4 separate regions of the Homo sapiens genome follow, and regions 1, 2 and 3 are each linked to region 4. The links come from fine-mapping of genetic effects on gene expression. A gene starts in region 4. Each other region holds a variant in brackets. All regions are shown on one strand. Distances are between the middles of the regions.

Region 1 (7,340 bases), 37 kb after region 4:
AAACCCTCTGCACTGATCAGTAAGCACTTTATATTACATAATTTTTGATTAGTGATTATGTGTCTAGCCTCATCTAGGTACTTTATATAATAAATCACTATTATGGCTACCACATACTGAGCACTTTTACTGTGTGCCAAAGTGCTAAACACTTTGCATACCACATTCAAACCTTGCAACAACCACTTAAAACAGGCTTTATTAACCCCACTTTATTGTTGAAGACATTGAGAGTTTTAGGAGTGATGCCGTTCCCCAAGAGTCTGGAGCATGAGTAGGTCTGGGGCAAGTCATCCCAGGCTGGAGTGATGACCCCTATGTTAGGGACTTTTAAATTATAAAACACCAATCAAATGTCAGGGGTGTCATTAGCATCATTACCATTATGCCGACTTGCCAAGTCTAATTTGGGAAACTTTGAAGGACGGGCTTCACTATATCAGTGATTGATTTGTTTACATGAAATAGAAGCCCACTCCAGCTAGTTTAAGCAAAAAATGTAATTCAATATAAGGCGTTAGAACTATCTCACAGATCTCAAGGGCAGGCAAGTCGCACAAGGACCTTACACTCAGGACTGGTGTTGGGGGAATGCCCACCTTTCCGTCCACTTCTCTCAAAACACCAATTTCCTTTCTGTCTTTCAGACACGTGTCCCAAGCAGCCCTCCTTGGCAAATCTACATTTCCTTACCCAACCAGGACCTGTGGCAAACAGTCTGGCCTCTCCTTGTCCTAATTCCAAAGTTCAGGAATCTGACTGGCCCAGCCTGGCCTCTAGAGTGGTTGCCTGTGAGTCAGGTACCTGCTTCTGCCCCAGTTAACTGGACAAGGAGGCTGGGCTGCATAGAAGAACCAAGGACCCAGGAGACTCCCTGGGCTTGTGGGCTGAGCAGGTACCTACTGAAGAAACCTGAAGAAAACTGAAGAAACCTACTTCAGTTTGGCCGGTCCTGGGGACTAGGAGCAGGCCAGGTGGGCCACGTTTCTGCCCAGTCATTTCCCAGTGCTGAGCTTCTTCAGGGGTAAAATGGCTTTCTCTGGCATTTTAGTGTCTTAGTGCCTCTAGAAACTCTGGAAGGTTCTTTTTATTTTTTACTTTATTACTTTTTTTTTTTTTTTTGAGACGGGGTCTTGCTCTGTGCAGCGGCGCCATCTCGGCTCACTGCAACCTCTGCTTCCCAGGTTCAAGCAATTCTCCCACCTCAGCCTCCTGAGTAGCTGGGATTACAGACGCCTGCCACCATGCCTGACTAATTTTTGTATTTTTAGTAGAAATGAGGTTTCGCCACGTTGGCCAGGCTGGTCTGTAACTCCTGACCTCAGGTGATCCGCCCGCCTGGGCCTCCCAAAGTGCTGAGATTACAGGTGTGAGCCACCACTCCTGGCCTCTTTTTAAATTATTTATTTATTTTATTTTTGGTAGAGACAAGGTCTCGCTATGTTGCCCAGGCTGGTCTCGAATTCCTGGGTTCAACCTATCCTCCCACCTCAGCTTCCCAAAGTGCTGGGATCACAGGCGTGAGCCACCATGCCTGGCCAGCTCTGAAAGGTTCTGACAGAGTCTAGTGACATATGTGTAGCTCATGCTTTGGGGGCTGTTTAAGGCTCCTGGGGACTTATCTACCTGTTTTTCTTAGTCCCTCGCCCTGGTTTACAGACCATTCCCAAGGGACTTCCTGTCTTGCCTTCCTGAGTCACTGCTGAGCTTTGAAAACACGATACATGTGCTGCTTTTGACCAGCCACCTCTTCACTGATTCCGTCTAGTCTCTGTGTTTTCCTTTGCTGGGTGTGACTCTTTGAATCAGACTTCCAGAATGTTAGGGCTGAAAGATCATTGCATCCGAATGCCCTCCACTGCTCACTTGTGGGACCTGAGGTGCAGAGAGGAGAGGATGAGTGAATGCAGATACATCCAAGGTGGCACAGAAGAGGGTTTTAGGTGATACATGGACAAACATTTTGTTATTGTAATAGCTATATTTAAACAGACTGTACTGTTGCTTAGGCTGAGGCTAAATTTATTTAAGTAAAATAGTCCAATAAAGAAAAACACAAAGCAAAAATATCTTACAGATTATAAAAAATGATGAAAGTAGTACAGGAATGAGTGACATTTGGGAAATACTACATTGATGAATGAGTGGGTGAATGGATGAATGAATGAATATATCAATGGATAAGGTACAACACTGGAATCTTTAGGATTCATTTTCTTACAGACATGGAATTTTTTCCCAGTCCTTGCACTTCAAGTCAGAGAATCATCATGATCCCACGAAACACCAGCTCAGCCCCCACAGGTGCTATACTTTTGACGAGATGGAACACAAATGGATTACTATGCAGTTCTCTTTTTTCCAGGTCAGCAAAGTCCAAACGCAGGGGCAACTGAGTGTACCTTTTAAGGTGAATGTCTTGAACTCCAGTTGCTCCGCCTCCTTTGGGTTGCTATGACCTTTTTCCTAATCTTAAAGAGAGGAAGAGCTTTAAGGGCCAGATGGGGTCTCTGGTTTCCCACGGGGCTCCCCAAAGGCAGCCCTTCTTGGCAAAACCCTGGGCCCATGCCAGGACTGAGTCATAGAAGGGAAAGTACCCTGGGTGGAAGTTGGACAGTGACCTTGGGCAAGCCCCTTCCCTCCTTCGCTGGGTCTTAGTGCTTCCTCTGAGAAGCAAGGAGGTTTAACTCCACCTCATTCGTGCCTTCATTCAATAAACACCAAATGCATTCCTGGCATTTGCTTGGTATGTGGGCAGATAAATAGAGTAATTGGATTCAGTGCCTGGAAGAACCCACAGTCAGGTTGGGTGGGGAGAAGGCACCTAAGGGCCTGTAATTACAGATATGTTTAAGAAGGGCTAGATGATGTGGACAGTCCCTGCCCACTCCGGGATCCCTAGAATGTGTCAGTGCAGGGGAAGGAATACATAAGTAACTTGGCAAGGTCACAGGGTTACACCCAGAAAAATGTTAGCCCTTGAAGTTAGGGACAGCCCTGGGCCTAGCTCCTGATCCTTCTCCATCCTACAGAAAACCTGCTGAACATGGATTTTGGAGTTGAGCCAATTCAGATTCCAACCCCTGAGCAGACACCAACTGGAACTGGAAGCGTCACTCTCCGGGCCTCAGTTTCCTCCTTTATCCAAGGGGGATAGGCCCTGGGATCCTAGGACATATGAGGGTTCCATAAGATAAGTATAATGTGTATCATGTCAAGAGCTCAGCACAGGGCCTGGCCCATTGTACGACTCCACCATCAAGGCAGGAGGTCGAATGGACATCTGTCCACTCTGGAAACACACCCACCTCTTGCCTCCCTTGGCTGGTCCCAGGGTTGGCTCTCTTTCTGGGGCCCTCTTACCCA[A/G]GAGGTCTTGCCTTAGTCCTCTCTTGACCCTTTGAATGCTCTCAGGGGCTTCCTCTTCTCAGGCCAGAGCCTCCCCATTGTACACCTCTGCTCTACTGATCTGGCTGTGAACTGGTATGTGCCAGAGACAGGGAGGAGGCTGGTAGGGCTGGGATTCCTTGGGGGAAAGCTGGCCAGAGCTGCAGGTTCCCCGACTCTCTTCCCAGCATTAAATTAGCACTGGAGCTGCCTGGTCTTGCCCAATAACTTGCCCAGGACAAGGTGACATCCTTCCTCCCTTCTTTGAGGCAGGACTGAGTGGCTTCCTAGAAGAAGACAGGCAGGACAAGCCAAGACGCACCCAAAGAATGGGGGAGGGAACCTGATTGGGGGAGAAGATGGGAGAGTCTGGAGCTTGGGGCAGCAGTGGATGGAACAGGTTTGCCCACATTCCTGGCAGGCCCCAGGATTCCAAAGCACTTTCTGTTTTTGTCACTGCCCCACCAATCACATACTCTGCCAGGGCCACAAGGCACCAGGCTTTTCAGAGCACCAAGCCCTTCCACCTTCACTTCTCATTCTTCACACCAAAAGATGGGTACTACTGGCTCTGTTTTACAGATGAAGAAATTGAGGCTCACAGAGGAAGAATCACATGCCCCAACTCGGAAGGGCTGATACAATTAACATTTAATGGCCAGGTGTGGTTGCTCATGCCTGTAATTCCAGCATTTTGGGAGGCCGAGGTGGGTGGATCACTTGAGCCCAGGAGTTCAAGACCAGCCTGGGCAACATGGTGAAACCTGACTCTACAAAAAATACAAAAATTAGCTGGGCGTGATGGCACGTGGCTGTAGTCCCAGCTACCCAGTAGGCTGAGGCAGAAGGATCACCTGGGCTCCAGTGGTCGAGGCTACAGTGCGCCATGATTGTACCACTGCACTGCAGCCTGAGAGACAGAATTAGATCCTATCAAAAAATAAAGTAAAATAGCCATTCACTAAGAACTACTATGAACCAGGTGGATTTCATACAAAAATCATCTCTGTTCCCAATATCCCAGCAAGGTGCCCATTTTACAGATGAGCAGACCAAAATGCAACCTGATGAAAGCACTTGCCCAAGGGCCCAGAACTAGCAAGCACAGAGCAAAGATGTGAACCTAGATTTGTTGGACTCCAGATCCTACCCCTTCTCAATGTTAAAGGCAAGGAAGCGGAGGCTCAGTAAGGTTCAAACCATGTCCAAGGTCATACCACCAGCAAGGCAAAGCCAGTTTTCAACCCAGGTCTGTCTAACCCTGCAACTTCTGTGTTTGCCGTATGCTACATTGTCTCAATAAACCTTTTTTTCATGGAGCAACTGGCTGATGCCAAATGACTACAACTGTATCTCAAACAGATAAAGATCCAGGACAGAAAGGGTCATGAACTATTATTACCATTATCATCAACGCTATTATTAATTGCTAACATAGCAGGGTCAGCATTTATACTGTATGATTCAGATTTGCAGAAATAAAACTTTCCTTCCACAACTGAACCCAACGCGATCACAACTCCTCTTCCCCTGATTTATTTCTGGGTTAAAATGTATTTTTTCATGACAACTAAATGCAGTGGGAGAGCGTGCATTTTCTTTTGCTTTAAAGGACATTTGGGGACAATTGGTAAAATCTGAAATAAGTCTACAGGTTAGATAATAGTCTTGTATAATGTTAATTCTCCAATTTTTAATTTTCGTGTTAAAAAAAAATTTTTTTTGAGACGGAGTTTTGCTCTTGTTGCCCAGGCTGGAGTGCAATGGTGCAACCTCGGCTCACTGCAACCTCCGTCTCCCAGGTTCAGGTGATTCTCCGGCCTCAGCCTCCCAAGCAGCTGGGATTACAGGCGCCCACCACCATGCCCAGCTAATTTTTGTGTTTTAGTAGAGACAGAGTTTCACCTCGTTGGTCAGGCTGGTCTCGAACTCCTGACCTCAGGTGATCCGCCTGCCTCAGCCTCCCAAAGTGCTGGGATTACAGGCGTGAGCTACCACGCCCGGCCTAAAAAATTTTTTTAAGATAGGGAGTCTCACTATGTTGGCCAGGCTGGTCTCCAGTTCCTGGCCTCAAGTGATCCTCCTGCCTCAGCCTCCCAAGGTGCTGGGATTATAGAGGTGTGAGCCAACATGCCCGGCCAATTCTCCAAGTTTGATAACTATACTGTGGATATGTAGGGTTACGTCCATGTTTTTAGGAAATACACACTAAAGTATTTAGGAACAAAAGGGCACTATGTGGACAACTTTTAAACATTTCAGAAAAAAATACACATGCACATGTGCACACAAACACAGAAGAATATAGCAGATATAGTAAAATGTTAACATTTAGGGAATTTGGATGAAGGGATTCAGAATTCTTTGCCTTACTCTTCCAACTTTTCTATAAATCTGAAATTATGTCAATACCAAAAAATTTAGACAAAAATATTTAGTCTTGTTTGGAAAAATCGTCAGCTCAGGATCTGAACTTGCTGTTAGGGTTGCTCGTCTCTCGGTGGTGCCTTCTCCTTCTGTCCAAGGATCACATCGGGTGGCAGAGGAGCCTTACCTAACACCTATGGGCTTGGGCCTAGGCTTCTGGGCTTGATGGCCCTATGGGCTGCCTTGCCCTCTGTGGTGTCTGGTGCCAGCTTCTCCCCATTGCTTCTCTGCTGGTGTCACTGGTCCTCTCTGGCTTTGGGCCTGGGCATACGTCACTCCTGAAGCCTCCAGCCACGGTGTCTGTTGCCAGAGCTGTGTGCTCTGAGCCCTCCTCATCCTGACCCCAAGCCTCTCACAGGTTCCTCAGGGCTTAGATGTGTCCTACTGGAAACTTCTGATGCTTACCCATGACCCACAAAGGCCTCAGGGGAGTCAGACGTTTGTATGAGTCAGTCTCATCAGGAACACAGAAAGCAGACTGGTTGCTTTAAGAGAGGGAATTGAATAGAAAGAATTGACTATTTCAACAGGAGTTTTGATGGAGACAAAGAAAAACAAAAAATTTTAAATGTTTTTAAAAGAACTGACTAAACATTAATTGACAGATGGAAAAGCCGGCGGCATGAGAGCGGAGGTAGTAACTGCAGGAAACAGACACCACCCCTAGGGAAGGGAGAACAAGGGAGGAAGTTAGGTGTCAGGACCTAGCAGCTGGGACCCAGACCCGGAGGAGGGCATGGCTGTAACTGGTGCTGGTGTCTCCGAGGGGCCACAGTGGGGCTGGTTCTGGGAAGGTGGGGAAAACCTAGAAACTAGAACCGCTTGCTGCTGGAACCAATTTCCTCTGCCAGGGTGAATGAAGGGCCATCGCTGAGGCGATGGTGACAGGATGGAACGGTATGCTGAGACCTTTCTTCCTGGGACCGCCTTGCACCCTCCAGGGTCCCCTATTGGCAGAGCCTATCCTGGAAACAGCTGACGGAACAGAAATAGGGTGGGCCCCAATGCCAGCCCCAGCGTCACCAGACGGCACATACAGGGATAGGTTTGGGGACAAGGGCTGATAGCTTCAGAACTGGTACGTGGAGGGAATGGGGAGCCGTGGGGCTGGGCCAGAGAGAACGTTGCTTCTCTCTCTCCCTCAATAGGCCTCACAGCCATTCCACCTCCCGTGGAAGGAGGCATACGCCCCTTAGTTCATTGGTCTTCTACTCCTTCCACTGGGCATTCACCCTAAGCAGATGAGACCTGAATCCCAGGCACTTGCTCTCTTTTCTATGTTTCTCAGTCCATCCAGGAAGAGTTTCTTGCCTGACCTGAGAAATTACCTACTTGATGACATCAGGGAAACTTTTATTCCTTGGGTCATCCAAGTTTCATCTCTTGATTTTTTTTCCTTTTACTTTTTATCCTCCTTGATCTGTTAATAAATCTCTTGATATTTAAAGAGAAGATTTTGAAAAAAATGTGTCTCTTCTGTATATATTGACTTTGTAGTTGAGTGCCTGGATCTTTAAAATAATTCTGCT
Region 2 (7,340 bases), 29 kb after region 4:
TTGGGGCTGGTGAGGGTGACAGTGTCCAGATCAGGGAAGGCTTTAGGGGCAGTCTGTGAAGTCTATGAAATATGCACACTTTATTCTCTAAGCAATAGGGAGCCATTGCAGGTTTGGGCAGGGAGGGATGGGCAGGTCTGTGCTGTAGAAAGCTCACTCTGACCAGCAGTGTGGAGGCCATCATGGAGGTGGCTGTGGTGAGAAGCCGGTGGGGGAGTGCAAGGGACATGAAATGATCTTGGTAATAGCCGACCTTTATTGAATGCCTACTATGTTCTAGGTGCTTAACTCATCTAATTCCCACAACACCCATCTGAAGTAGATTCTCTCATGAGCTCCTTCTAGAAATGTCATCAAAACACTAAAGTCTCCAATGTTTCTATCTCCAGCCTGAACCTCCCTTCTGAATTCCACACCTATATGTGCAATAGCCGGTTGGCTTCTCTACTGAATGTCTAATAGGATCTTAACCTTAACGAGTCCGAAAACAATCTCCCCAAACCTGCTTCTCTCAGTCTTCTCCATCTCAGTCAATAGCAGTTTCACTTTTCCAGTTGCTCAGGCTAAAAATGTTGGAGTCATCCCTGTCCACCCTCCACTTCTTACTTCCCATATCTGATCTATCTGCAAATCTTGTCGGTTCTAACTTCGGTACATACCTTCTGGTCTTCTCACCCCTCTCCTCCAGACTGCTGCCAGGTGGGCCAAGTCCCCACTGTTTCCTACCTGAATTACTGCAGCGGCCCCATTACTGATGGGCTCCCTGCCTCTGCCCCTTCGACCTATTCTTCACGCAGCAGCTGGTGTGACCTTAACATACAAAGCTAGATCAGGTTCCTCCTGCTCAAACCTTTTCCCAGCTCCCTAGAGTCAAAGTCCTGATAATAGCAGAGAGATCCCAACATGATCCAGTCCTTGTCTCCCCAGCCCCTTGTCAGACCTCTTCCCACATGCTTCCCCCCAACTCCAGCCACACTGACCCCCTTGCCAGCTTTCCCATTAACCTCAGAATTATTGCACTTGCCATTCCTTCTACCTGGAATGCCATCTTCCCAGATATCCGTGTCATTTTCTCCTTCAAATTTCTGTTCAAATGTCATCTTACTAGTGAGATCCTCCTTAACCACCCCATTAAAAATAACAACTTGGCTGGGTGCAATGGCTCACACCTGTAATGCCAGCACTTTGGGAGGCCGAGGTGGGAGGATTGCTTGAGGCTAGGAGTTTGAGACCAGCCTGAGAAACATAAGGAGACCCCCCCATCTATACGAAAAATTAAAAAATTAGCTGGGCATGGTGGTGCGTGCCTGTAGTCCCAGTGACTCTGGAGGCTGAGGCAGGAGGATCCCTTAAGCCCAGGAGGTTGACTCTGCAGTGATCCATGATCCTGCTGCTGCACTCCAGCCTAGCCAACAGAGCGAGAGCCTGTCTCAAAAACAAAACAAAACCTCACCTTCCTCCCCTACCCAGGCACCTTGTATCCCCTTCCCTGTTTATTGTTTATACTACATGTCACCATCTGAAACATTTTATAAATTATATTTTACTTTCTGGTTTATTATCTTTCTCTTCTCCTCTCCCCTTCCCTCCCCTCCCCTCACCCCACTAGAATGTCAGCTCCACAAGGACAGAGATTTTTCTTTATTTGCTTCACTGCCATATCCCCAGTGCCTAAAGTATTGTAGGTGCCCAGTAAATTCTTCTGAATGTTGACTATGGAATCTGTGTGCTACAGAAACTAAGGCACAAGGAGATTAAGTAAACTTGCACAAAGTCACACACTAGTAAGTGGTTGGATTTGGATAATGAACTCAGAATATAGGCAGTGACAGCAGAGAATGAGAGGAGGGAATGAAAGAAAACAAGGACCTGACAGATGGGCTCCAGGTCCATGGGCTGATGTTGCACCAAGGGGTGAGGTTGATGTTGTGAGACCTCCGGGGGTTGACATGAAGATTAAATGAGCTGAGACTTGAAAACACATTGTATATATAGGGAAAAGAGATTTTAAGAAAACTATTATTCCATGAATTTTGAATTCCCAGCCATGTTCCTGGCCTTCTCCACCCTTGCTGCTGAGGCATCTGTTGCTTCCAGTCGGGGGCAGATTCAGCAGCAGATGAGCAGCTCATCCTTAGCTTTGCCTTTCTAAATGGATTTTTTGAAAGAGTAGAGGAGACCTAACAGTGTCAGAATCCAGAATTTCAATGTAAAGGCCTACACAGTTGGGAGAGATACCCAAAACTTCCTTTTAAATGTCAAGACCTGGGCTGGGCGCAGTGGCTCACGCCTGTAATTCCAGCACTTTGGGAGGCTGAGGTAGGTGGATCACCTGAGGTCAGGAGTTGAGACCAGTCTTGCTAACATGGTGAAACCCCGTCTCTACTAAAAATACAAAAATTAGCTGGGCGTGGTGGCGTGCGCCTGTAGTCCCAGGTACTCGGGAGGCTGAGGCAGGAGAATCACTTGAACCCGGGAGGCAGAGGTTGCAGTGAGCCGAGATTGCATCACTGCATTCCAGCCTGGGCTACAGAGTGAGACTCTTGTCTCTAAAAATAAAAATAAAATCAATGTCAAGATCTGGAGTCTGGCCAAGGTGGGGCCTGGACTTTTTACTATGAGCCCTGGAGGGAGGGAAGGTATGAGACAAAGCAGTGATTCTCCAATTTGAGTGTGCATCAGAATCATCTGGAGGGCTTGTTTCAACAGGGATGGCTGCCTGGGCCCCACCTGCAGAGTTTCTGATTCAGTAGCTCCAGGGCGGGGCTGGAGAATTTGCATTTCTAACATCTTCCTAGGTGATATGAACCACATATATATATATATATATATATTTAAGAGGCAAGGTCTAGCTCTGTCACTCAGACTGGAGTGCAGTAGCCTGATCACAGCTCACTGCAACCTCAAATTCCCGGGCTCAAGCAAGCCTCTTGCTTCAGCCTCTGGAGTATCTAGGACTACAGGCATGTGCCACAACACCTGGCTAATTTTTTTTTTTTTTTGTAGAGGCGGGGTCTCGCTGTGTTGCCCAGGCTAGTCTCAAACTCCTAGGTTCAAGTGATCCCCCTGCCTCAGCCTCCCAAAATGCTGGGATTGCAGGCATGAGCCACCGAGCCTAGCTCTAATACCAACCACACTTTGAATAGCCCTGATGTAAGGGTTGTTCTCAGTTCCAGGGGCAGCCTCGCAGAGCCCATGCCCTCCAGGATGGAGGTGTGAAGAGGGAACCCCAGGAGGTGGTGGGGGTAGGTGTATGGAAATGCTCAGGAAGACGGTAGGCAAGAAGAAGGTTGGGGTCAGAGGAGAGGGTGTGAAGACTGTGGCCAGGAACATAGTTGTGGGCAGCAGAGGCCAGGGGACCTGCCCAGAGGACAGGTGGGACGTGTGCCTCAGCCACACTGCAGAAGGCAGACACTTGAAAGAGGAAGCAGTACTGGGTCAGAGGCCCCTTCCCCAACCATGAGACTATCCAAGCCCCCAACTCCATTCCCCTTCAGATGTCACCCTGAAGAAGGGACAGATGGGGCTGAGAAGTGGTGAAAGATTGAGTATTTTCTCCCAAAGAGCCTGAGGGGACTTGGGATGGCACAATTTAGAATGTCTTGCAACAACATCATGAATTAATCCCTCTGCTCCTACCAGGGTATGAAGAAGTGGCCCCAAAGTTGCAGTGCAATGGTTAAGAGCAAACATTTCCTGGATGCGCAATCCTAGGCAGGAGACACCCTCTCTGAACTTCAGTCCTCAAATCTAAATCGAGGATGAAATTATCATCCATCTCATCAGATTGAGAGGTTTAAA[A/G]GAGACCATGCATATAGTGGAGTGTTGAGCTAGAGCCTGGCAGAGGGCAAATATTCAATCAATGGTATTTATGATGATAGGTTTTAAAGGCTGGGCATGGTGGCTCATGCCTGTTATCCCAGCACTTTGGGAGGCTGAGGTGGGTGGATCACTTGAGGTCAGGAGTTCAAGATCAGCCCGGCCAACATGGTGAAACCCCGTCTCTCCTAAAAATACACACACACACACACACACACACACACACACACACACACACACACATATTAGCCCAGCATGGTGGCGGGTGCCTGTAATCCCAGGTACTTGAGAGGCTGAGGCAGGAGAATCACTTGAACCTGGGAGGCTGAGATTGCAGTGAGCTGAGATTGTGCCACTGTACTCCAGCCTGGACAACAGAGTGAGACTCTGTCTCAAAAAAAAAAAAAAAAAAAAAATTCTTCCCTGCCTTCAGTTTGTTCTCTCTTCCTCCCTTCCTCAAATACTTATACTTACTGGGACCTACTGGCCCCTGACATGGATTTTGCCTCCTTGGAACTCACATCAGGAAATCAGACCAGTCAACAGGCACTTAGTAGCTGACTGTGGGCTGGTGCTGTGTTGGGGTAAGCTCGGGGCACTGGGACTGGGGACGCTGAGAAGTCTTTCTGGAGGATGAGATGCATTGCTTATTTAGGGGGCTTTATTGAAGCTGATAATAAATTAAAAGTATATATATATTTAAAGAATAATAACACTTGGGGCTGGGCATGGTGGCTCACACCTGTAATCCCAGCACCTTGGGAGGCCAAGGCAGGAGGATGGCTTGCACCCAGGTGTTCAAGACCAGCCTGGGCAACATAGTGAGGCCTCGTCTCTATTTTACTTAAAAAAGAATCACTCCTGGGAAGGAAAGAGTGAAAATTATAAACTTTCTCCCTCAGTCAAGGTTCAGAAATATAATTATAGTGCGCAACACTTTATAATGGGAGGCAGGAGAGCATGGTTGACTTTGGAATCAGACGAGCTGGAATCCAGATTCTGAGGTTTAACAAATGGTCTGACCCTGGACTACTTAGCTTCTCTGAGCCTCGGTTTTCCTTATCTGTAAAATGAGACTAAAGGTAGCTACTTGACATGTGGGTTTGTGGTAAGATTTAAAGGACGCAGATTATGTACAGCACCTAGCATATATTATTTGCTAACTAATTCTGAGTCCAGGGCTGGAGAGTGGATCTGGGCTTTTTTCCTCTCCACCCTGTGTCCTGTCACTTTCTGTTTCTCCCTGGTTTTCTGGATCATAATGAACTGATTGATGACCCACCTGTCTTCTCCACCAACCTGGGTGCTCCTTGAGAACAGAGTCTGGTTCAGGGTCTGTTTAGTTTATCCCCCGCTTTTTTTTTTTGCTCAGAGACAGTCTTGCTCTGTTGCCCAGGCTGAAGTGCAGTGGTATGATCATAGCTTACTGTAACCTTGAACTCCTGGGCTCATGTGATCCTCCCACCTCAGCCTCCCAAAGCACTGGGATTATAGGTGTAAGATAACATGCCCTGTCGCTAGATATCTTCTTTGGTGAAGTATCTGTTCAAGTATTTTGCCCCTATTTGCATTACTTATTTTCTAATTATTGCATTTGGAAGTTCTTTTTATATTCTGGACACAAGACTTTTATCAAATATATTGTATTAGCCGATTTTTACACTGCTATAAAGAACTACCCGAGACTGGGTAATTTATAAAGAAAAGAGGTTGACCAGGCGTGGTGGCTCATGCCTGTAATCCCAGCACTTTGGGAGGCTGAAGCGGGCAGATCACGAGGTCAGGAGTTTGAGACCAGCCTGGCCAAAATGGTGAAACCCCATCTCTACTAAAAATACAAAAATTAGCCAGGCGTGGTGGCAGGTGCCTGTATTCCCAGCTACTCAGGGGGCTGAGGCAGGAGACTCACTTGAACCTGGGAGGCAGAGGTTGCAGTAAGCCAAGACCATGCCATTGCACTCCAGCCTGGGTGACAGAGTGAGACTCCATCAACAACAACAACAACAACAACAAAAAAAAAAAAGAATAAGAAGAAGAAGAAAAAGAAAAAGAAAAGAAAAAAAAGAGGTTTAATTGACTCACAGTTTCACATGGCTGGGGAGGCCTCAGGAAACTTAACAATCATGGCAGAAAGTAAAGGAGAAGCAAGGGCACATTTAACATGGTGGCAAGAGAGAGAGTGAGGTAGGGAACTGCCACACTTTAAAACCATCAGATCTCAGGGGAACTAACTCACTGTCATGAAAACAGTAAGGGAGAAACCTGCCCCCATGATCCAATCATCTCCCACCAGGCCCCTTCTTTAACACATGGGAATTATAATTCCAGATGGGATTTGGGTGGGCACACAGAGCCAAATAAGATCATTTGGCCCATGGCTCCTCCAAAATCTCATGTCCTTTCACATTTCAAAACTAATTATGCCTTCCCAACAGTCCCCAGAAGTCTTAAATCATTGCAACATTAACTCAAAAGTCTAAGTCTAATGTCTCATCAGAGACAAGGCAAGTCCCTTCTGCCTATGAGCCTGTAAAATCAATGGTGGTACAGGCATTGGTTAAATGTTCCTGTTCCAAATGGGAGAAACTGACCAAAACAAAAGGGCCACAGGCCCCATGCAAGTCCAAAACCCAACAGGGCAGCCATTAAATCTTAAAGCTCTAAAATAATCTCCTTTGACTCCATGTGTCACATCAAGGGCACGCTGATGCAAGAAGTGGGTTTCCAAGGCCTTGGGCAGCTCCACCCCTGTGGCTCTACAGGGTATAGCCTCCACAACTGCTTTTAAAGGCTGGCATTGAGGACCTGAGGCTTTTTCAGGTGCATGGTGCAAGCTGTCAGTGTATCTACCACTCTTGGGTCTGGAAGACAATGGCCTTCTTCTCACAGCTCCAGTAGGCAGTGCCCTGGTGGGGACTCTGTGTTGGGGCTCCAATCCCACATTTCCCCTCCATACTGCCCTAGCAGAGGTTCTCCATGAGGGCTTTGCCCCTGCAGCAGACTTCTGCCTGGACATCCAAATGTTTCCACACCTCCTCTGAAATCTAGGCAAAGTCTCCTAAACTCCTGCCTTCTGCACACCTGCAGGCACAACACCACATGGAAGTCACCAAGGCTTGGAGGTTGCACCCTCTGAAGCCATGGTCTTAGCTATACCTTGGCCCCTTTTAGCCACAGCTGGATCTCCAGTGGCTGGGATGCAGGGTGCCATGTCCCAAGGCTGCATAGAGCAGCAGGGGCCCTGAACCTGGCTCATGAAGCCATTTTTCTATTCTAGACCTCTGGGCCTGTGGTGGGAGGGACTGAGGAAGATCTCTGAAATGCCCTGGAGACATTTTCCCTACTGTCTTGGTGAGTAACATTTGGCTCCTTGTTACTTATGCAAATTTATCCAGCCAGCTTGAATTTCTCCCCAGGAAATGGGTTTTTCTTTTCTACTGCTTGGTCAGGCTGCAGATTTCCCAAACTTTTGCTCTGCTTCCCTTTTAAACATAAGTTCCAATTTCAGACCATCTATTTGT
Region 3 (7,340 bases), 68 kb after region 4:
TGGAGTTTCGTCCTCCGAGACAGCTGTGGTTTCTGCTTTGCTCTGTGATCCTAGGCCCTCCAGGAGATCTCTCTGGAACTGATTCTTCAATTTCTAAGAGAACAACAAGAGTATTTAAGGGGATTAAAAACCACAGCAATATCTATGAACACTTTAAAACCCCACTCTGTGCAGGCCTGGTTTAACCCTGGCGATGTAATCATCAATCATTCCTATCCTTGACCTTCCCCTGCACTCACTCAATGAGCAGCTCCCAAAAGTTGGGTCTCCACTGTGCACCTGGGGTCCACACACTTCTCCCCACCAGCTTGGCCCACCACTTCATCGAGCCTCTGGATGACTGCTTCGTCTCCTAACTGGTCTTCCTTTTGTTATTTTTGTCCCCTTCCAATCTGTTCCTACGATACAGCCAATTTGATCTTTTAAAAAATCAGATCAAGCTGGGTGCGGTGGCTCACTCCCAAAGTGCTCCCAGCACTTTGGGAGATGGAGGCAGGGTTGTTTGAGCCCAGGAGTTCAAGACTGGCCTAGGTAACTTAGGGAGACCCCATCTCTACAAAATATTTAAAAATTAGCCAGGCATGGTGGCATGTGCCTGTAGTCCCAGCTACTCAGAAGGCTGAGGTGGGAGGACTGCTTGAGGCCGGGTGGTTGAGGCTTCAGTGAGCCATGATTGCATCACTGCACTCCAGCCTGGGCAATAGAGTAAGATGCTGTCTCAAAAAAAAAAAAAAAAAAAATCAGATTAAGTGGAGGAAGCCAGTCTGAAAAGGCTACATACTGTGTTATTCCAAATCTATGATATTTCGGAAAAGGCAAAAACTATGGAGACAGTATAACAATCAGTGGTTGTGGCCAGGTGCGGTGGCTCATACCTGTAATCCTAGCACTTTTGGAGGCTGAGGCAGGCAGATCACCTGAGGTCAGGAGTTCGAGACCAGCCTGGCCAACATAGTGAAACCTCATCTCTACCAAAAATACAAAAATTAGCCAAGCATGGTGGCACGTGTCTGTAATCCTAGCTACTTGAGAGGCTGAGGCACGACAATCGCTTGGACCCGGGAAGCAGAGGTTGCAGTGAGCTGAGATCGCACCACTGCACTTCAGCCTGGGCCACAGAGGAAGACTCAACTCAAAAAAAAAAAAAAAAAAAAAAAAAGTAGTTGCCAAGGCCTTGGGAGGAGGGAGGAATCAGTGGAAAACAGGGGGTTTTTAGGACAGTGTGACTAATCTGTATGCTACTATAATAGTAGACACAGGTCATACATTATTCAAAACTCATGTTCAATACAGAGCAAATTCTAATGTAAACTGTGGACTTTAGTTAATAATAATGTATTGGGTCATCAACTGTAACAAATGTACCCCTCTAATGGAGGATGCTAATACTAAGGGAAATTGTGATATGTGTGCATGTATGCACAGTAGAGGGTGAGAGGGAACTCTGGACTTTCCGCTCAATTTTTCTATAAACCTGAAACTACTCTAAAAATAAAGTCTATTAATTTTTTAAAAATCAGATTATGTCATTTTCCTGTTTAAAACCTTCCAACGGCTTCCTATTGCACTTTGAACAACATAATAAAACTCCTTCCTCTGGCTCATGAAGTCCCCATGATGTGGCCCCTGCCTTGCTGTCTCCCTTCCCCAACTAACACTCCACAATGGGCTTCTTTCTGTTTCTCAAATATGCCCAGTTTTTTCTCACCCCAGGGTCTTTGCACTTGCTGTTCCCTCTATCTCGATGCTCTTCCCTCTGATTTTCAGATGGCTGGTTCCCTGTTATCACTGAGGTCCTAGCTAAACATCCCTTCCTTGGAGGGGCCATCCTGACCACCCAATAAGAGCAGCCACCCAGTCACTCAATGCCATGCAACCCTGGATTCTACTGGAAGTAGTTGCCATGGGAACAGGGGTCTTTTCTACCTTCTTCCTTGCTGTATCCCCAGCTCCTAGAACAGAGTCTGACCTGCAAAGGTCCTCCAGAGATACTGGTTGAGTGAATGTGAGTGAATGAATGAAAGAATCTTCTGAAACTCATTCAGGGCCAGGCCTATGCTGGATCCCAGATAAGGCATGGTTTGTGACCTCTGGGATCTCACAATTTAATACACAGAAGTTTACATTGGACCTCCCGAACAAAGTAGCAGAGTGGTTAAGAGCACAGGCCATGGAGCCAGACTTTGTGGGTTCAAATCCTGGCTCTGGTTGGGCTCAGTGGCTCACGGCTATAATCCCAGCTCTTTGGGAGGCTGAGTTGGGAGGATTGCTTGAGCCTAGGAGTTTGAGACCAGCCTGGGCAACATAGTGAGACCCCCATCTCTACAAAAAATTAAAAAATTAGCCAGACATGGTGGCATGCGCCTGTGGTCCCAGCTACTCAGGAGGCTGAAATGGGAGGATCACTTGAGCCCAGGAAGTCGAGGCTGCAGTGAGCCAAGATGGCACCACTGCACTCCAGCCTGGGTGACAGAGCAAGACCCTGTCTCAAAACAACAACAACAACAAAAGACAACTAGCTCTGGTCTGTAACAGCTGTGTGTGTAAAACACCCAGGAAAGTTTCTAGAGCATATTACATGATCAAGAAATGTGAGTCATCATTGATGTCATGCAGGCCATATAAAGATACATGAGGCTGCACAACTCCAACACCAGAGTTCAGGGAATTTGGGAAATCCCTTTATTTATTCATTTGTTTCTGGATCACTCATTGCAAGCCTTTGGAAATGAGCATGAGAAGGGGCAGGTTATTTTAGGGAAAATTAAATTTTTTAAATGGAGAAACTAATATTGACTGTACTAAGAGGCTTGATATTCAAGATGTCATTTTATCCTCCCAACAAATATTTGGGGTAAATACTGTAGGGCTATTTCACAGATGAGAAAACTGAGACTTAGGGAGGTGAGATGATTTGCCCCATGTGACCCAGCTAGGAGGTAGCAGAACCAAGAATGACCCCAGGGCACAGTGAGGTCATAACATGCCCCCTTCTCTCTCACCATCCCTGCTCCAGCAGGCATGGGCTCCAGTCCCGAGCCCGGGCTTACATGGGTGGCAGTGACACTGGGTGGTCAGGAGCTGGGATGTTAGTGTAGACGGACCTGATTTCAAGTCTTACCCAGGGCAAGACTTTGGGCAAGGTTCCATACTGGAAAACTGGGTAGCTGGGCACAATGGCTCATACCTGTAATTCCAGCTACTTGGGAGGCTGGAGAGCAGGATGGCTTGAGGCCAGGAGTTTGAGACGCGCCTGGACAAGATAGCGAGGCCCCTCGTCTCTAAAATAAACAAACATATCAGAAAAATGGGGTTCATAACAATATCTGCTTCATAAGATGGACCTCTGTGAGCACAGCTCTCAGGACAGCACTTGGCAAAGGGTGGGGAGTTGGTAAATACTCATTGAACAGAGGCACCATGGAGTTGTTGTGAGAGGTGAGATGAGATGAGGCTGATCTGTCAGATACATGACAACCAGTTCCCAAAATTTCTGAAAGAAGGACCAGAGCCAGGATTCCACAACATGGCACCTGTGTGAACAGGAGTTCTGAAGAGGGCATTCAGAGCCGGGAGGAACAAAAGGGATCATGTTGTTGACACATGAGGTAATCACCTGGCAGGTTGGTGGCAGAGCTGGCTGGAACCATGGCCATCCGTCAGTTCTCAGGCAGTGCATTGCAGGGGAGAGAACCAAAGAAAGTGTTCTTCAAGGCCAAGGTCCCTTCTGCCAGCCCATGGGGCCTCCGATTCTGTTCTCATGGGGAGTTGGGGTGAGGATGCCTGTGTCATCCATGGGTGAATTCTCCAGCCTCTCTGGGGAGCTCTACATGCC[C/T]GGCTCCCTCAGGCCCCAGCTAGTTCCAGGGTTTAGGTCCTGGAGAGGGCCACAGTGCTCAGGGTCTCAGAAGCCAGCTCTTCTTCCCACACCCAGAGCTCCTTCCCCAGCCGGGCCCACACTTTTGCTCCCTGGCTGACCTAGATTCAGGAGCTGGCTCATTTCCACAAGTAGACAGATGCTGAGGCACAGTGAATTAACACACATATTTCAATAAGTGGTGGGCAGGTGGCCCCACAGCCTCTCAGAGCCTCAGTTTTCTCAAATTTTTTTTTGTTTTTTTTGAGACGGAGTCTCGGTCTGTTGCTGAGGCTGGAGTGTAGTGACGCAATCTCAGCTCACTGCAGCTTCCACCTCCCAGGTTCACTTCTCCGGCCTCAGCCTCCTGAGTAGCTGGGATTACAGGTCCCCACCACCACACCCGGCTAATTTTTGTAATTTTAGTAGAGGTGGGGTTTCACCATGTTGGCCAGGCTGGTCTCGAACTCCTGAGCTCCTGTGATCTGCCCACCTCGGCCTCCCAAAGTGTTGGGATTACAGGCATGAGCCATCACACCTGGCCAGTTTTCTCAACTTTTAAAGTAGGGACAATAGCATTTACCCTTGCAGAGTTGTGAAGATTAAATGCACTTATATACTTGAAGTGCTAGCACAGTGGCTGAACAGAGTAAGTCAACAATACACATGTATTATGCATTCTTGCATTGCTATAAAGAAGTACCCGAGACCGGGTAATTTACAAAGAAAAGAGGTTTAATTGGCTCACAGTTCTGTAAGTTGTACAGTAAGCATGATGCTGGCATTTGCTCGGCTTCTGGGGAGGCCTCAGGAAACTTACAATTATGGCGGAAGGCAAAGGGGGAGCAGGCATGTCACATGACCGAAGCAGGAGGAAGAGGTCAGGGGGAGATGCCACACACTTTAAAATGACCAGACCTCGGGAGAATTCACTCACTATTGAGAGGACAGCACCAAGGGAATGGTGCTAAACCATTCATGAGAAACCTACCCCCATGATCTAATCACCTCCCACCAGGCTCCACTTCCAAAACTGGGGATTACATTGAATGTGAGATTTGGGTGGGGACACAGATCCAAACTATATCAACACGTTAATCTCTTTCCTTCCTCACATCTATCCCCACACTGACTTTGGAGGCAGCTTGCTAGCTCTCAGCCGGGCTTACGTCACCACCCTGCTTAAAAAATCTTTTATTCTTCCAGTGCTCTCTAAGCTAATGTGAATATTCCCTGGCTTGGCATCCCAGACCCTCCTCACCCGCCCCAAGCTGTTTGACCCGCCAGCTTTTTTGCCACCCTTTTCTAACTAATGTGCTGTCAAGTTAATAAGCCTTTCTTGGAAATGTCACTCATATACCCCTGCCTTGTAGACCCAATGCACATTAACATATTAAGGGTTCTGAGGAACATTGCAGGAAAGACATTTGTTTAACCTTGTTCAGTGCAGAATTTCCCAAGTGAGTTTGACTGTAGAATCCCATTAATATCCCACAGGACATGCGTTTGTTTCCTGAACACCCTTTGCAATTTCCTGCCTGCATGCTCTGCACAGGTGGGTCTTTCTTTCCACAAAGCCCTTCCTCCCCAACGCCTGTTTACTCATCACAGGAGGCCCAGACTGGCCGACCCCTCCTCCAGTTGGTAGAGCTGACTCCCTCCCCTGGGCTCCCTCAGTCTGTGTCCTCTGCCCCACCCTTGCTCTTCCAGTCCTCCCAGTGAGCATTCCTGCAGGGCTGCCAGCCCTCACTCTCGCCTCCCCAGCATCTGGCCTCCCTTGCTCCCCTGCCCCCACCCGAGATCCATTTGAGTCCTATCTATCTGTTCCCAGGGGACCACCAAAAAACATTTCCTCTAAGAACCTTTTCTGTATTCCTTAGTCAGGTAAAAAATAAACAATAAATAAAAATCTGTTTTCCTCGTGATTTTAGTTAAAGGTCGCTAAGGGTAAGGTCCATATTTTTGGTTTCTCCACAGTGCTTTGCACTTAGTAAGTTCTCAGTAAATGCATGCTTAGACATACATTCCACCATATTTATTGAACACCTATCATGTGTCCTGTGCTGGATGTTGGGGGCATAATGGGAAACACAACAAACCTGGAAGGCAATAAGGGAAGTAGGAAAAGCTAGGATTCTGGGAGACACGGCTTGCTTCTGAATCCTGGTTCCACTACTTACCAGCTATGCATCCCTGAACAAGTTACTTGACCTCTTTGTGCTTCAGTCTCCTCACTCATGAAACAGGGAAAGAAAAAGTATTTGTCTTGAAGGGTTACTGTGAGGATTCAGTAAGATGATACATAAAAAGTGCTTAGAACAGACCCAAACACATAGGAAGAGCTATAGATGTGTTCAGCGATTGTTATTGTAATAGACAGCTTTGCCTCACAGAGTTTAGTTTAATAGGAAAGACAGACGTTGAATGACCAATTATACTAGTAACTATTTATTTATTTATTTATTTATTCGAGACAAGGTCTGGCTTTGTAGCCCAGGCTGGAGTGCAATGGTGCAATCATAGCTCGCTGCAGCTTCAATCTCCTGGGCTCAAGCCATTCTCCTGCCTCAGCCTCCCAAGTATCTGTGACTACAGGTTTGAGCCATCATGCCTGGCTAAGTTTTTCAAAATTTGGGTAGTGACTGAGTCTTACTGTGTTGCTCAGGCTGGTCTCGAACTCCTGGCTTCAAGTAATCCTCCTGCCAAGGCCTCCCCAAGTGCTAGGATTGCAGGCATCAGTCACTGTGCCTGGCCCTATTTATGCTTTCCTATTTATGTTTTTGATAAATGTTGAGAAGGAAAAGTACAGTGCACAATGGGAGAATAAAACAGATGGCCCAGGCTTGTCCCACGGTTCAAGGAAAGCTTCTTGGAGGATATGCCATTTAAACTAAGACTGAGGATAAGCATCAGTTGCCAGGCCAAGAGGGGATGGAAGGGCATTCCATGCAGAGGGAACAGAGTGTGCAAAGATACTGAGCCAGGAAATAATTTGGCATTTTGGAAGAACTCAGAGAAGGCCAGAGTGGCAAAAGGGCAGGGAATGAGAAGGCAGAGGTAGAAGATGAATTTGCAGAGGGGGGCAGACCATGCATGCCCTGGCAGGGCATGTAAGGATTGAGGGCTTTATCCCAGGAGCATTGGGAAGCCTTTGAAGGTTTCAATCAGAGCAGTGACCAGATCATATCTGCGTCTTAACAAACCATTTCAGAGACTGGTAGAGGATACCAGTAGGAGATTGATCCAGGTGAGAGAAGACAGGGGTTTGGACTGGGGTGCTGGCTGTGGGGAAGGAGAGAAATGCAAGCATGAAAGAAATGGTGAGGAGATCAAAGAAATGACAGAAATAAGTGACTGATGGAGAATGGGCAGCAATTGGAAGAGAGAACTGCTGAGAATGCGTCTGGACTCATGGCCTGAGTGGCTGAACAACTGAAGATGAACCCGCTCACGTGCAGGGAGACGTGATGCATTCAGTTTAGGATAT
Region 4 (7,340 bases):
TGCGGGAGGTGTGGTGGCTTCCTTGAGGTCAGGCAGCTAGTAAGAGTTGCTTCTGAACTGGACCCTGAGGCTGTCAGACGACAAGCCCATTGCTCTCCTCACTGTCTCTACACGTACTCTCTCTTCCCCTGGTAGGGGATGGTAGGGTCAGAAGCCTCCAAACAGTATCAGGGATTTGGGGATCCAGGCTGTGGGATGCCCCAGCCTCATCTTCTCCCCTGTCCATCTGTCTGCTGTCCAACTTGTCAGCAGTCCCTTTTGGAGGGATGCAGGAGGGAAGAGCTCAGCAGCTGGACTCTCTCCTCCGCTTCCCCCTTAACTCTGGAAAGAGGCAGGTGTTGGGGTTTTCGTTGTAATCCCTTCCATATGGAGAGCACTTCAGAGTTTGCCAACTGCTTATCAACCCATCTCTGAATTTGTTCCTTACTAATTGTGAGGGTTATTGCTTTGTAATGTAGCAGGGCAGGGATATTAGCCCCATTTTACTGGTGTGGAAACTGAGGGGAGAGAGAAGAGAATCAGGGAAGTGTTCAGCTCAGGGTCAAACCCTCCTGTACTAATTCAGCCCTGTGGTTTCTGTCTCTGGCCTGGGGTTCTGGGCAAAGCAGCGGGGCGGTGGGGTGGGCAAATGCCAGCCCCTCTGAGCCCAGAGCTCAGGCCAGTCCCTTCCCAGAAGGCTCTCTTCCTTTCTCTCTTCATCCTGTCCCAGAAATCCCATGATCTTAGGGAGACCTTTATTCATTTGCCAAACACCTCCTGTCACCAGCCACATTCCATCCTGGTAGCTTCAGAGCACAGTAGGTCCTGGGAGAACTCACAGGTTGGTGGAGGGTCACATCCACAAAAAAGCCTGGCTTGAGAGTCAAGCCCAGCTGCTGGGGACAGAAGGTCTCAGCCTGGTGTTCCCCTCCAGTGTCCCTGGAATCCATGCTCTCCTAGAGAATGCCCCACCACCGCAGCGTCTCTGACCCGGCCTCCTCCCTGACTTCAATCTCTTTCCCAGCTTTTCTCCCACATCTCAGAAGCACCTAGGGATTTTTCCAGAGTGAACTGCAGAGGGTGGCCAGGAACTCACGCTGGTGCTCAGGACTCTGAGGCCAAATCCTGCCAGGCCTGGGCACACTCCACAACCCTCATGTGTAGAATGAGGACTGTGCTTGCCTCACGAAGTTGTCGTAAAGCCATTCGACCTTTCTTGTACCTTCTAGACACCCCACACCTTCCCCAAACATTCATCGTACTTGTGTGCCTTCCTGCCTTGAAACAGGCTCCTCTCCTAAAAACATATTCATCACTCAAGGCTCTGTTCATCACGTCAAATGTCACCGCTTCCCTGAAGCCTGAACTGACCCCAACCTCAACTATTAATAGCTGAAACTGCTCCCTTCTCTGGGTGTGCCCGCTTGGCCGGTCTATTGTCCTGGCTGTACAATCCCCCCCAGAACTATTTTCTTTTTTCTTGAGGAGTCTCGCTCTGTTGCCAGGCTGGAGTGCAGTGGCATGATCTCGGCTCACTGCAACTTCTGCCTCCTGGGTTCAAGCGATTCTCCTGCCTCAGCCTCCCGAGTAGCTGGGACTATAGGCGCGCACCACCATGCCCAGCTAATTTTTATATTTTTAGTAGAGACGGGGTTTCACCATATTAGCCAGGATGGTCTCGATCTGTTGACCTCGTGATCTGCCCGTCTCGGCCTCCCAAAGTGCTGCTTAGCACTGTTTTCTAGAACTCATCACAGTCTTCCTTGCAGCAAGATTAGTTTGTTTTCAGGCCTATCACCCACCTCCTCCCACCTGGGCTGTGATTCCATGAGAACATGCACCAGGTTGACACAGGGCCTGGAATAAAATCAGCACCAATTTGTAGAATAATAATTGCCGTCACTTACTGAGAACTGCCCAGGTATTTGGCACTGTGCTAAAGGCAGCGTAACTACCTGAGGAGACGGGGACCATCTCCCTCTGGGAAACCGCCTCAAAAATCAGAACGGATGGTGTCTTGGGCAAAGGAGAGAGTCAGGGTCCAAAGCTAGGCTGTCTGAACTCGGTGCCACCCAGCTCCTCTCTGGCAGAGCACCAAGCTCCCCCCACCCTACCCTAGGAGCTGGGAAGCCCAGTGGGTTACCCCACCACCCAGTGGCAGCCTCTGCCCTCCAGGTTGTGACATAACAATTGCACAACCCACGAGATATTTTTGAAAGAAACTGTCGGTTTCCTCTCCTGGGCACTGCTGGGGACTGTGGCCCCCATGCCATCCAGTGTCTTCAGCAACCTTGGGACTTTGGAAGCTAAATATAGTCAGGGCTCGGGGTGATAAGGAAATGAAAACGGCAAGACTGTAAAGTGACCCAGTTTTATTTTGGTTTTGGAGGCCAGACAGGGCATTGCTCCACGGGTTCGGGCTGTACAACCTTCCCCTCCTTGAGGTGGGAGGCCCAGCAACCACAGGGCCCAGGCAGCGGGGTGGGAGGCTCAGGAGATGGTGGCTCTGGGGACCCGATCCCGAGGAGAGAGGGGGCAGCAGGCAGAGGCCTGCAATGGCTCAGATTGGGGGAAGAGGGCGGCGAGGGGGAGAGGACACGATCCAAGAACCAGAGTCCGAAAGCTGAAGCTGGTCCGGTCTCTTTCACTTTACGGCCGAGGCTGGGGTCAGAGAAGTGAAGCCAAACTGTCCTCCCGCAGGAGGCAAGGCCTGGAGGGACGCCAGGGTCCCAGTCCGGTGCCGGGCCCTGCGCACACAGCCGCCGCCTCCACCCTCGCGGAGGGCGCGCGCGGGGCCCAGTCGCTGGGTGCAGGGTCCGGCGGGCAGTCGGGCCCTTTCTCCTCTCCGGCACGCCGGGCGGGCGCCGGCCGCCCTCAGCAGCTCACGGAGCCGGCGGGCGGCGCGGACCCCAAGTCCGAGAAGCAGTCGAACTCGCTCTGGCCCAGGAAGAGCTCGGGCAGCTCGCGCACGCGGTGCAGCCCGAGCTCCAGCTCCAGCGACGTCAGCGCCTCCTCGTCGATGAGTTCGGCGTCCATGCCGCCCAGGGCGTGCGCGGGCGGCGGCGGGGCTGCGGCGCTTGGCGCCGGCTGCGGGCCCGGGGGGCCTCCCGGAGCGTTGGGGGGCGCGGCCGCGCGGCCGGGGTACGGCGTCGCCACAGGCTGCAGGTGCGCGATGCCCGCGGCCGGCGGAGGCACGGCCGGAAAGGGCTGGAAGGAGGACGGCGGCCCGAAGGCCCCGTACGCCAGGGCCCCGGGTTGGCGGGGCGGCGGCGGCCCCAGCGGAGCCCCCCGCGGCCTCAGCCCACTGTCCAGGCCCGGGCCCGCGTACGGCGGCAGAGTCCGGAGCGCATGAGGGCCATGGGCGGCCGCGGCGGACGGCGGCCTCTGCACCAGGCGGTAGCCCTCGGCGAGCATCAGGTGGTCGGCCATGGCGGCAGGCCGGCTGCCTGCGGGGACAGCGCGCGGTGGTCAGCGCCGGCTCCCCCGGCCCGGGCCAGCGGCTGCTCTGCGGCGGGAGACCCGGGCACCGTGCGGTCCCTGCAGCTCGGCCGGGCGGAGCAAAACCAAACCCGACTGGTGCCCCGGCCCAGCCCACTACTGCGCACCTTGCGGCCGCAGCCTGGGGTCACAAAGGCCCGCAACCTGTAGTGCTCCGAAACCTCCGCGTCGCGTAGCTGGGCTCGGCGTATTCTTATACCCAGAGGCGGGGCTTCCCCGCCCTCGGACGCTCATTGGCTGGGCGAGACGCTTCTGGGCGGGCCGCGCACGCCTGCATCTAGGTCTTGGCCCCGCCCCTCCCACTGGAACCCCGCCCCTTGGGACTCCGGCCACGCCCCAGGCTCTGAGCACCGCCCTGGGGCGGGGTATTTGGCACTTTCGGAGGGATTCGGTCTGGCCCTCAGGGCTTCGGAATCGGACTTGGCTGGGGTAGAGCTTGAACTGACCAGAAGGTGGGGTGGGAGGGCCAGAGTTTTAGGCCCCCCAAGAGCTGCAGGATGTCAGGCCTACGCAACCTTTTAACTTTCCAGGTAGAGACCGAGGCTCAGTGGCGGAAGAGGCTTCCTGGAAATACACAGCAAAGCCTTGATCAAAGTGAGACTGCACAGCTACACAGGGCGCATGCACCTTAGCGGTGCAGGGTCCCCGCAGGAGGTCAGCTGTCCATTCCCATAACCCCCAGGAGAGCCTGTTGCTCCCCCTCTAGTTCCCACTGCACCTTGTCTGTTGAAGCATGTACTTAGTTGTTATTAATTTATGGGCACGTCTCCTGAAGGACTTGTTCATCTTCTTCTTCTCAGCACTTGGCCCAGAGCCTGGCCCAGAGCAGGCTTTTAGTAAAAGCTGAGTGAATGAACTAATGATGGAATGAATTGCAACTCTCAGCTGAGCCTCAGTTTCTTCATCTGTAAAAGGTAAAGAACAGCAGCACTGACCCTTTGTGAGGGGTAAGTGAGGGCATGTGTGCACAGTGCCTAGCACAGTGCCTGGTATGTGGTAGATGCTCAAAAGTGTCCCTTAGATGAAAGAAAGGCTATTTAAGTTCTTTTTTTTTTTTTTTTTGAGACGGAGTCTCGCTCTTTCGCCCAGGCTGGACTGCAGTGGCGCTGTCTTGGCTCACTGCAAGCTCCGCCTCCCGGGTTCACGCCATTCTCCTGCCTCAGTCTCCCGAGTAGCTGGGACTACAGGCGCCCGCTACCACGCCCGGCTAATTTTTTTTGTATTTTTAGTAGAGACGGGGTTTCACCGTGTTAGCCAGGATGGTCTCGATCTGCTGACCTCGTGATCCGCCCGCCTCGGCCTCCCAAAGTGCTGGAATTACAGGCGTGAGCCACCGCGCCCGGCCAAGGCTATTTAAGTTCTGTCCCAAAGGGCCTTCTCTTGATAACAGCAATAATAACTTGGACTTTTAAAGTGCTTTACATTCTACAAGTATTTTGTTGGGGGCAGGGCATGGATTATCAGCCCCATTTCAGTGATAAGGAGAAGCACACAAAGAGAAAGTGGCTGTCCTGAGGTCACAGGCAGCCAGAGTTAGCGTGTGAATGCCATGTGTTTTCCAAGTCCTTAGGGCAACTGGAGTCTTTCCTGTGGCCAGGAGACAGCCTCCCAGAACCTTACCCTCCACGCATTTGACACTCTCTCTCCCTTCTCTGACCTTCCCCCGACCTGTGGCATCCTTGGGACTTCCTGGAACTTGGGTTTATCCAGTTGATGTAGAGGGGAGAGCCCTAGAGTGAGAATTCAGGGGCCCAAGGTCTTTTCTTCCCTCTTTCTTCTTATTTTTTTAAATAGAGAAGGGAGCGGGGGGGAGGGGCGGCGTGGGGGAGTGAGGAGGGCCTCAGGCTTATCTCGAATCCCTGGCCTCAAGTGACCCTCTCACCTCAGGCTTCCAAAGTGCTAGGATTACAGGCATGAGCCACTGCGCCCAGCCAGAGGCCCAAGTTCTAATCATATCTCTGCCACCCACAGGTGTGTGACCTCCACCACCAACCAGCTGTGACTGTTGAGTGTTGAGCGGGGAGTATTACTTGATTCCCCAGGGCCTCAGCTTTCTGCTCTGTGAAAGGGAGACGGTGATCTTGCCTGGTCAGCCTGAGAGCTTGTGGGTAGTGATAAATGACCATGGGTGTGGTCACATTTTTGCAAAGTGTAAAAAGCTACACCCTGGAATTTATTCTCCTGAATCTTTCTCTACAGGTAAGGCTTCTCACAGAAATTCTTAAACCTGGCCATGCCTCACACTTATCTGGAGATGTGGGGGGTAAGGGGTGGGTGAGTGGGGGCTTTGATAAAGACGGAAAATCTGCCCAATTTGGGAGATGAAAGTGAGAGGATTGCTTGAGCCCAGGAGCTCAAGACCAGCCTGGGAAACATAGTGAGACCGTGTCTCTACAAAAAGTTAAATAATTAGTTGGGCATAGTGGCATGTATCTGTAGTCTGAGCTACCCAGGAGGCTCAGGTGGGAGGATTAGCTGAGCCCTGGAGGTGGAGGCTGCAGTGAGCCATGATGGCACCACTGCACTCCAGCCTGGGCGACAGAGATCTTGTCTCAAAAAAATCAACAAGCAGGCCAGGTGAGTGGCTCACGCTTGTAATCCCAGCACTTTGGGAGGCCGAGGTAAGTAGATCCCTTGAGCTCAGGAGTTTGAGACCCCTGTTTCTGAAAAAATAAAAAATTAACTTGGCATGGTGGTGTGCACTTGTAGTCCTTGCTACTTGGGAGGTTGAGGTGGGAGGATCACTTGAACCTGGGAAGTTGAGGCTACAGTGAGCTATGATCACACCACTGCACTCCAGCCCGGGTGATGTAGGGAGACCCTCTCTCAAAAAACAAAAAAAAACAAACAAAACAAACAAAAAATTATTCTGCCATCATTGGTCTTAGGTCACCAGCATTTGGGAGCCATTGCACCACCAGATGATTTTCCATTTAAAAAAAAATGTGTGTGTAACTAATGTTTAAGAAGTTCTTTAGGCCGGGCATGGTGGCTCACACCTGTAATCCCAGCACTTTGGGAGGCCAAGGTAGGCAGATCACCTGATATAGGAGTTTGAGACCAGCCTGGCCAACATGGTGAAACCCTGTCTCGACTAAAAATACAAAAATTAGCTGGGTGTGGTAGCACACGCCTGTAATCTCAGCTACTCAAGAGGCTGAGGCAGGAGAATTGCTTGAACCCAGGAGGCGGAGGTTGCAGTGAGCCTAGATAGCGCCACTGCACTCCAGCCCCAGCGACAGAGTGAGACTCCATCTCAAAAAAAAAAAAAAAAAAAGAGAAAAGACAAAAAAAAAAAAGGAAAAATAGAGTAGGAAGGAGGTTGGGGTGCAGGGGAGGAGGGGAGCAAGTTGTAGTATTAAGTGGGGTATCTGGGGCAAAAGCGGGCTGGGCGTGGTGGCTTACGCCTGTAATCCCAGCACTTTGGGAGGCTGAGGTGGGTAGGTCACTTGAGGTCAGGAATTTGATATCAGCCTGGCCAACATGGTGAAACCCCGTCTCTACAAAAAGTACAAAAATTAGCTGGGTGTGGTGGCACGCACCTGTAGTCCCAGCTACTCAGGAGGCTGAGGCAGGAGAATCGCCAGAACCCAGGAGGCAGAGGTTGCAGTGAGCCGAGATGGTGCCACTGCACTCCAGCCTGGGCAACAAAGCAAGACTCTATCTTTAAAAGAAGAAAAAAAAAAAAAGCCGTATCAGCAGAGAGAACGCTGGAGCAGCACTTCTAAAACTGTAGCAACAAGTCCTGAAGTGTCAGCCTTACCAGGGACCCCATTAGAAATGCACATTCTAGGACCGTACACCAGACTCAAATCAGTTTCTGAATCAGAAACTGGGCTGGAATTCAGCATCTGTGTTTTAAT

Direction of the effects. Positions count from the first base shown, and alleles are read on the strand shown. Sizes are in standard deviations (SD) of each study's normalised expression. Not every link is listed here.
With allele T in place of C in region 3, the expression in subcutaneous fat of the gene that starts at base 3,644 in region 4 is higher (moderate effect, 0.41 SD a copy in FUSION).

The links. PIP is the estimated chance that this variant, and not a neighbour inherited with it, causes the effect.
Region 1: its variant is the best candidate, but not a certain one, in a credible set for the expression of CITED4 in esophagus mucosa (GTEx, PIP 0.52).
Region 2: its variant is the best candidate, but not a certain one, in a credible set for the expression of CITED4 in whole blood (INTERVAL, PIP 0.70).
Region 3: its variant is the best candidate, but not a certain one, in a credible set for the expression of CITED4 in subcutaneous fat (FUSION, PIP 0.69).

What each region holds. Positions count from the first base shown.
Region 1 is chr1:40,895,937-40,903,276 of GRCh38, forward strand. No RefSeq gene overlaps it. Among named protein-coding and RNA genes, the nearest start is that of CITED4, 37 kb to the left of the region's middle. RefSeq lists an enhancer at 2,112-3,311 and a silencer at 6,581-6,875. The variant A/G (reference allele first, on the strand shown) is at 3,367.
Region 2 is chr1:40,887,307-40,894,646 of GRCh38, forward strand. No RefSeq gene overlaps it. Among named protein-coding and RNA genes, the nearest start is that of CITED4, 29 kb to the left of the region's middle. The variant A/G (reference allele first, on the strand shown) is at 3,802.
Region 3 is chr1:40,926,767-40,934,106 of GRCh38, forward strand. No RefSeq gene overlaps it. Among named protein-coding and RNA genes, the nearest start is that of CTPS1, 49 kb to the right of the region's middle. The variant C/T (reference allele first, on the strand shown) is at 3,836.
Region 4 is chr1:40,858,720-40,866,059 of GRCh38, forward strand. CITED4 (Cbp/p300 interacting transactivator with Glu/Asp rich carboxy-terminal domain 4) reads right to left here and starts at 3,644. Exons shown (of 1, transcript NM_133467.3): 1 at 2,335-3,644. The coding sequence starts at 3,408. The coding sequence ends at 2,854. LOC124904157 (a long non-coding RNA gene) reads left to right here and starts at 3,665. Exons shown (of 3, transcript XR_007066025.1): 1 at 3,665-4,391; 2 at 5,449-5,676. RefSeq lists silencers at 3,431-3,510, 3,671-3,870 and enhancers at 3,971-4,030, 6,454-7,003, 7,004-7,340.